2 separate regions of the Homo sapiens genome follow, and region 2 is linked to region 1. Evidence: fine-mapped expression QTL. A gene starts in region 1. The other region holds a variant in brackets. All regions are shown on one strand. Distances are from middle to middle.

Evidence for each region. PIP is the estimated chance that this variant, and not a neighbour inherited with it, causes the effect.
Region 2: its variant is the best candidate, but not a certain one, in a credible set for the expression of SERINC1 in whole blood (INTERVAL, PIP 0.81).

The regions. Positions count from the first base shown.
Region 1 is chr6:122,469,376-122,473,375 of GRCh38, reverse strand. SERINC1 (serine incorporator 1) reads left to right here and starts at 1,569. Exons shown (of 10, transcript NM_020755.4): 1 at 1,569-1,677. The coding sequence starts at 1,639. It also overlaps a transcript of PKIB not described here. RefSeq lists enhancers at 1,410-1,469, 1,520-1,919.
Region 2 is chr6:122,688,368-122,692,898 of GRCh38, reverse strand. The region is part of intron 3 of PKIB (cAMP-dependent protein kinase inhibitor beta); the gene reads right to left. Among named protein-coding and RNA genes, the nearest start is that of PKIB, 80 kb to the right of the region's middle. The variant A/TA (reference allele first, on the strand shown) is at 1,965.

The DNA.
Region 1 (4,000 bases):
AAACCCTCTTAAATGGAGCAAGAGACAAGAATCTGTGCAAATTTAAATTTTAAGAGACCCATTCTCCATTTGGCTAATAAACATATTCTTTACGACCTTAAAGTTACTCACATATAAGTGTTTTTTGTCTCCTTCTCTGGTACTTTGAAAAGTTTAAGGACTTGAGATACTAGGATTCTCTTCTCCCATAAATAACGTATTAAGTTTAGCATAATTAAAAATATTGTTAGGTTTGTAATTTCCATTTCCACTATTCTTTTTTTTTGAGACGGAGTCTCGCTCTGCAGCCCAGGCTGGAGTGCAGTGGCCCAATCTCGGCTCACTGCAACCTCTGCCTCCCGGGTTCAAGCAGTTCTCCTGCCTCGCCTCCCGAGTAGCTGGGATTACATGCGCGTGCCACCATGCCCGGCTAATTTTTTGTATTTTTAGTAGAGATGGGGTTTCACCATGCTGGCCAGGCTGGTCTTGAACTCCTGGCCTTGTGACCCGCCTGCCTCAGCCTCCCAAAGTTCTGGGATTACAAGCATTTCCACAATTCTTTAAACCTTATGGATGCTCTATTATAATACTTTGCTTTAAGAGTGGTCTACAAAACCACAGATAAGGCAAAGAAGAATAAAGCAAGATTGTCCCTTAGTGGTTACAATAACTAGGAGTAGGGATTCTGACATTCTTCCAGATTCTTAGGTGTTTACCCCACCTCGACCCATGCAATTTTTGTAGATTTTACAACACTTTCTTATTATTAGTTATGGGAATGACTATTTCAAGTTTGAGCTGTTTCCCAGAATATTTTCAAGAACAAATAACTCTAAAAAAATAACTGGAACTTTTATAGGAATGCATTCCCTGCAGATGTGCATCATCACCTAATATGCAAGGGTTCCACATGCCTCAACAGCTCATGACATTCGAAATCAATGTTTGAGTTTGATAATGTCTTATCTAACTAATTAAAAATAATTTTAACGTGCAAATTTCTTGTAACATCTTAATAGCATAAGAAATTAAAATATAAGTCAATAGCAAACAGAAATGATACAGAGAAACTGAAGCACACAGATGAATATAAATATCCCAATAAAACTTGTTCCGGGCAGCGGGCTGCAGGAATACGTTGCAAACGCAAGAGCAAAACAGGATGCAAACGTGGGAAAAATGGGAAATAAGTGGAGTTAGGACGGACAAAGACTGAGAAAGAGGAAGCAATCCCCTAAAAAGCAGAGAGGTTCCTCAGATGAAGGAGGGCAAAACGTCAACCACCACCTCAGCTCTGTTCTCTACTAATGCCCAAATGCAAGTGCATGGTAGGTAAAGGTGGGTTTTGCTCACACCGTTTTCTTAATTTGGCAAACTACGGTCAGATCCACATTAGCCGTTAAGTTTCCAGCCAGCAGTCCTTGAGAAATTCTCCAGGAAAGAAGACAGCCGTGTCGTCTAGTGACGCGCATGCGCAGTCTCAGCGCTGCGCGCTCCGTGTTTTATCCTACCCAGGCCTGGAAGGAAGTGACGCGAGGCTGAGGGGCGGGTTGCGCTGTGCGTCCGGAAGTGTCTCGCAGATAGTAAATAATCTCGGAAAGGCGAGAAAGAAGCTGTCTCCATCTTGTCTGTATCCGCTGCTCTTGTGACGTTGTGGAGATGGGGAGCGTCCTGGGGCTGTGCTCCATGGCGAGCTGGGTAAGGTGCTTTTTGCGGCCTCTGGGGTGCTAGTGTGAGAGACCAAAGAGAAGGCGATCCGAGCCGGGGCTGGGTGAGCCCGGCGGGAATGTGGTGCCCCACCCAACAGGGAGTGCCCTCTCTGTCCCCGTTTTCTTCCCGTCTCCTCTCGTCACTCAGACTCAGCTTCAGAGCTTTGGGTCTTGCGAAGAACTGATCACTGGCCGTAAGGTTTAGTGGCGATGGGAAGATGACTCAAATTGAGGAAGAGAACTAGAATAGGGCCCCTCCCCCACCCCTGCTTCGTGAACGCTGTCTCCCATTCTTTGAGGTCCCTTTTCGTGGTTTTGTTTGTATCTGCGCAGGCCATCTCTACAAAGGTCTTTGCCCCTTTCCTTCGGTGGGGTACCCACTCTGTTGTCATCTCTTTCCTGGCGACCTCAGACTGCCGCACTGTCGTTCCTGGATTCATGTCGCCCTCTTTGTTCAGTGGCGCAGATTATGATTAAAAAGTGCCTGTCGTCATTTGGAACCGCCTGGCAGTAATGCTAATGTAGTAATATTGTTTTTGAAACAAATAGTCATAGCTCTGCCGTAACTGTTTGAAGTGTCAATTTCAGATTTCAACTTAAAATTGAAATTTCAGATGACACACGCATGCCTTGTGCCTAATGACAATTTTGTCTTTAGGCACAAAACATGCGTGTGTCATCTGAAATTTCATGCTTAATTAGCTGTACATTGCATTTTCATTAAAGAGTTGTTAGAGTAAAACTATTTTCAGTATAGTGGCAAGACTTTGGTCCGTGTGGCACAAATTTCAGTTTATTTAAGATAATCTCTGCCCCCTCCAAAATAGTAGGCAAAACATTGGCAGTGCAGTTAATAAAGATATTTGTAATTTTAGGCGAGGTATTTGGACTCAAATCACTTTTCTTTAGTCTGGAATTTGTTAATTCTGTTTCTAACAATTGCTTTTCTGACTTCCCAAATGATTCCGTTATATATACTCTTAAAGGTTTTGATATGTCTTGAACTAAAAATGTTGAATTTTAATCAAATAATAATGTGGGGATTGTTACTCCAGCCAGTCTGTTCTTTTGATTATATGGTATTTCTTCTTGCACGGAAGCCTGGAATATTTTATCTCAAGATATTAGAGAGTTTAATTATTGACTTTTATACAAAAGAGGCATATTTAGTGTGATAAACAGTTTTGAAAACTGATAATTGATTATCATATAAGATTGTTTTCATCGGTTTTTTATTGGAAGATGTTATGCAATTCAATTTGTAATGTCGTATCTTGTCCAGTTATGAAGTGGGCGTGCTGTAGTTTTTTGTATATAATAGAGATTTAAAAGATGAGATACATGTTTTCCCTTTTACAAAATAGATCGCCACCTTTATTGATTAGAAGAATGTCCGTGATAAAATTGACCCTGCCTTTTAGTTTCTGTGTTAATAGCGAAGTACATTAAAAAGGTAGAAGCAGTGAGGCAGTTTTTTAGAGATGGGGGTCTAAGTGTATTGGCCGGGCTGAAGTGCAGGGGATGGTCGTAGTGAACTGCAGCCTGGAACTGCTGGGCTTAAGTGTAACCTCAGCCTCCCAGGTAGCTGGTACTACAGGCAGGTGCTACCGTGCTCAGTTTGGAATTTATTTTATTGTTTGCAGTTTCAGTAATCTTTTTCCCTTTTCTTCCTTGTGCCTCTGTCTCTATTCATTAATTGTTTGATTTTACTGCAGGCCAATAGTCATTGAAGGGGACCATCTCTTCCACATTCTTAACAGTTAATGTGCTCATTTACTTAGAGGTTTTGATGAAATTAAAATTTATTCAGCTTTTCAAAAGTAACACTCAGAGCCTGCTGCAGTGGCTCACGCCTGTAATCCCAGCACTTGGGAGGATGAGGTGGATGGATCACTTGATGTCAGGAGTGGGAGACCGCCTGGTCAATATGGTGAAACCCCGTCTCTACTAAAAATACAAAAAAAAATAGCTGGGTATGGTGGCACATGCCTGTAGTCCCAGCTACTCGGGAGGCTGAGGCAGGAGAATTGCTTGAACTGGGAGACGGAGGTTGCAGTGAGCTGAGATCATGCCACTGCACTCCAGCCTGGGCAACAGAGCAAGACTCCATCTCAGAAAACAAAACAAAACAAAACAAAAAAACAAAAATCAGCCGGATGTGGTGGCGCACACCTGTAATCCCACTCGGGTGGCTGAGGCAGGAGAATCTCTTAAGCCCAGGAGGCGGAGGCTGCAGTGAGCCAAGATGGCGCCACTGCACTCCAGCCTGGGCAACAGAGTGAGACTCTGTGTCAAAAAAAAAAAAAACAAAA
Region 2 (4,531 bases), 220 kb before region 1:
TCCTAGTAACTTATAAATCAGAAGGCTTTATGTAGTCTGAAACATAATGTTTCTTTGATGTATTTTTAATCTAAAATAAGGTAGCCCAGATGAGGGATAGATCTTGATGGCTGAATAGAAGCCTCTACCTATTGTCCCCCTGACAGAAACAACAATTTAATTTAACAACTATCTACACCTTTATAAGAACCAAAAATCAGGTACCAGCTCAACCACAGTGGGGTAGAGCACCAACCAGCCTTGTGAGGCCCCAATTCTAGGCCTTGGCTCTTGGATGGCATTTCTGGACCTGCCATGGGCCAGATGGGAGCCCACTGCCCTGAAGGGTGAGTCGCAAGCCTGGAAGCATTCACCACAAGCTGACTGAAGAGCTTTAGGCAAGTAGTGAAAATAAGCAATGGCCTGGAAGTACTCCCCATGGGGCTGTGGTGGTGGCCACAGAGAGAGATTCCTCTGGCTGTGGAAAGGAGGGGAAGGTGGGAAGGACTTTGTCTCATGGTCTGAGTGCCAGCTTAGCTGTAGTAGAATAGAGCAACAGACAGATTCCTGAGGTTTTGACTCCAGTTCCTGGCTCCCATTTGACATCTCTGAATTCACTCAATGTGCCAGGGAATTCACTGCCCTGAAGGGAGGACACAGGTCTGACTGGCTTTGCTACTGGCTGATCGTAGAGCCCTAGGGCCTTGAGCAAACATAGGCTATAGACAGGGGATGGTTACAGCGGGCCTTGGGCAAGACTCAATGCAATGCTGGCTTCAGATCTGACCCAGAGCAGTCCCAGCACTGGTGGTCACAGGGGTGCTTGTGTCACCCTTCTTCCAGCTCCAGGCAGCTCAGCACAGACAGGGAGACTCTGTTTGTTTGGGAGAAAGTAAAGCAAGAGAGCAAGAGTCTCTGCCTGGTAATACAGAGTATTCTTCTGGATCTTATTGAACATCACTAATGTGGTACCTCTACAAGCCTACAAGAACCACAGTGTTACTGGGCTTGGGGTACCCTGTAATGCAGATATGCCTTAGATCACAATACCCAAATCCTTTCAAATACCTGAAAAGGCTTCCCAAGAAGGATAAGTAAAAACAAGCCCAGACTGAGACGACTACAGTAAATACCTAACTCTTCAAGGCCCAAACACCAATGAACATCCACAAGCATCAAAAACATTCAGGAAAACATGGCCTCACCAAATGAACTAAATAAGCTACCAGGGACCAATCCTGGGGAAAAAGAGATATGTGACCTTTCAGACAGAGAATTCAAATTAGCTGTTTTGAGGAAAGTTAAAAAAAAAATCAAGATAACACAGGGAAGCAATTCAGAATTCTATCGGTTAAATGTAACAAAGAGATTGAAATAATTAAGAAGAATCAAGCAGAAATTCTGGAGGTGAAAAATAAAATTGACATACTGAAGAAGGCATCAGAGTCTCTTAATAGCAGAATTGATACAGCAGAGAAAGAATTAGTGACCTTGAAGACAAGTTATCTGAAAATACAGTCAGAGCAGACAAAAGCAAAAAGAATAAAAAGGAATAAAGCACTCATACAAGATCTAGAAAATACCCTCAAAAAGGCAAATCTAAGAGTTATTGGCCTTAAAGAGTAGGTAGAGAAAGATACAGGGGTAGAAAGTTTATTCAAAAAGATAATGAAAATTTCTCAAACCTAAACAAAAATATCAATATCTAAGTACAGGAAGGTTATAGAATATCAAGAATATTTAACTGAAAGGAGACTACCTTAAGGCATTTAATAATCAAACTCCCAAAGGTCAAGGATAAAGAAAGAACCCTAAAAGCAGTAAGAGAAAAGAAACAAATAACATATAATGGAGCACCAATATGTCTGGCAGCAGGGTTTTCAGTGGAAAATTTAGGGCCGGGAGAGAGTGGCATGCCATATTTAAAGGGCTAAAGGAAAAAAACCTTTTACCCTAGAATAGTATATTTGGCAAAAAAAAAAAAA[A/TA]ATATATATATATATATATCCTTCAAGCATGAAGGAGAAATAAGGACATTTCCAGACAAACAAAAGCTGAAGGATTTCATCAACACCAGACCTGTCTTACAAGAAATACTAAAGGGAGTTCTTCAATCAGAAAGAAAAAGAAATGTTAATGAGCAAGAAGAAATCACCTGAAGGTACAAAACTCACTGTTACTAATAAGCACGCAGAAAAATACAGCATATTATAACACTGAAATTGTGGTGTGTAAATTACTGTTATATTAAGTAGAAAGACTAAAAGGTGAACCAATCAAAAATAATAACTGAGACAACCTTTCAAGACATAGACAGTATAGTAAGATATAAATAGAAACATCAAAAACTTAAAAAAGCAGGGAGAGGAAGTTAAAGTATAGAGTTTTTATTAGATTTCTTTTTGCTTGTTTGTTTGTTTATGCAATTAGTGTTAGGCTGTCATCAGTTTAACATAACGGGTTATGAGATAGTATTTGCAATCCTCATGGTAACCTGAAATCAAAAAACATACAACAAATACACAAAAAAATAGAAGGTAAGAAATTAAACTATGCCACCAGAGAAAATCATCTTCACTAAAAGGAACGCAGGAAAGGAGAAAAGACCACAAAACAACTAGAAAACAACTAAATGGCAAGAGTAGTCCTTACCTATCAATAGTAACATTGAATGTAAATGGACTAAATTCTCCAATAAAAAGACACAGAGTGGTTGAATGGATTAAAAAAAAAAAGAAAGACCCAATGATCTGTTGCCTATAAGAAACACACTTCACCTACAAAGACACACACAGACAGAAAATAAAGATGGAGAAAGATATTCCATGCTAATGGAAGTCAAAAAAGAGCAGGAGTAACTATACTTATATCAAAAAAAATGTACTTCAAGACAAAAACTATAGGAAGAAACAAAGGTCATATAATGATAAAGGGGTCTATTAAGCAAGAGGATATAACAATTTTAAATATATATGCATCCAACACTAGAGCATCTAGATATATAAAGCAAATATTATTAGAGCTGGAGAGAGAGATAGACTCCCAACATAATAATAGCTGGAGACTTCAACATCCCACTTGCAGCACTGGACAGATCTGCTAGACAGAAAATCAACAAAGAAACATTGGACTTAATCTGCATTATAGACCAAGTGAACCTGATAAATATTTACAGAACATTTTATCCAACAGCTGCAGAATACACATTTTTCTCCTCAACATACTGCACATTCTCAAGAATAGACCATATGTTAGACCACAGAACAAGTCTTAAAACATTTTAAAAATTGAAATAATATCAAGCATCTTCTCTGACTACCATGGAATAAAACTAGAAATCAGGAGGAATTTTGGAACCTATACAAACACATGGAAATTAAACAATATGCTCCTAAATGACCAGTAGATCAATGGAGAAATTAAGAAGGAAATTGAAAAATTTCTTGAAACGAATGATAATGGAAACACAACATACCAAAACCTGTGGAATTCACAAAAACAGTACTAAGAGGGAAGTTAATAGCAATAAGCACCTACATCAAAAAAGAATAAAATTTCAAGTGATCAACTCAATGATGCATATTAAAGAACTAGAAAAGCAAGAGAAAACTGAACCCACAATTAGTAGAAGAAAAGAAATAAACATCAGAGCAGAAGTAAATGGAATTGAAATGAAGAAATAACACAAAGGATCAATAAAACGAAAATTCGGTTTTTAGAAAAATAACCAAAATTGACAAACCTTTAGCCAGACTAAGAAAAAAAGAGAGAAGACCCAAATAAATAGAATTAGAGATGAAAAAGGAGATGTTACAACCAATACCAGAGAAATTGAAAGGATCGGCCAGGTGTGGTGGCTCACGCCTGTAATCCCAGCACTTTGGGAGGCCGAGGTGGGCGGGTCACGAGGTCAGGAGATCAAGACCATCCTGGCTAACATGGTGAAACCCCGTCTCTACTAAAAATAAAAAAAAATTAGACGGGCGTGGTGGCGGGCGTCTGTAGTCCCAGCCACTCGGGAGGCTGAGGCAGGAGAATGGCGTGAACCCGGGAGGCGGAGCTTGCAGTGAGCCGAGATCGCGCCACTGCACTCCAGCCTGGGCGACAGAGCAAGACTCTGTCTCAAAAAAAAAAAAAAAAGAAAGGCTCATTAGTGGCTACTATAAGTAACTATATGGAATAAATTGGAAAATCTAGAAGAAATGGATAAATTTCTAGACATGCAATCTATCATACAATCTATCAAGATTGAACCATGAAGAAATACAAAACCTGAACAGACCAATAACAAGTAACAAGACTGAAGCCATAATAAAAAGTCTCCCAGTAAAGTAAAGCCTGAGACCCAATGGCTTCACTGCTAAATTCTACCAAACATTTAAAGAAGAACTAATACCAGTCCTACTCAAAGTATTCCAAAAAAAACAGAAGAAAAGAATACTGTCAAATTCATCCCATAATGCCAATATTACCCTGATTCCAAAACCAGACAAAGACACATCCGAAAGAGAAAAATACACACCAATATCCCTAAAGAATATCAATCCAAAAATCT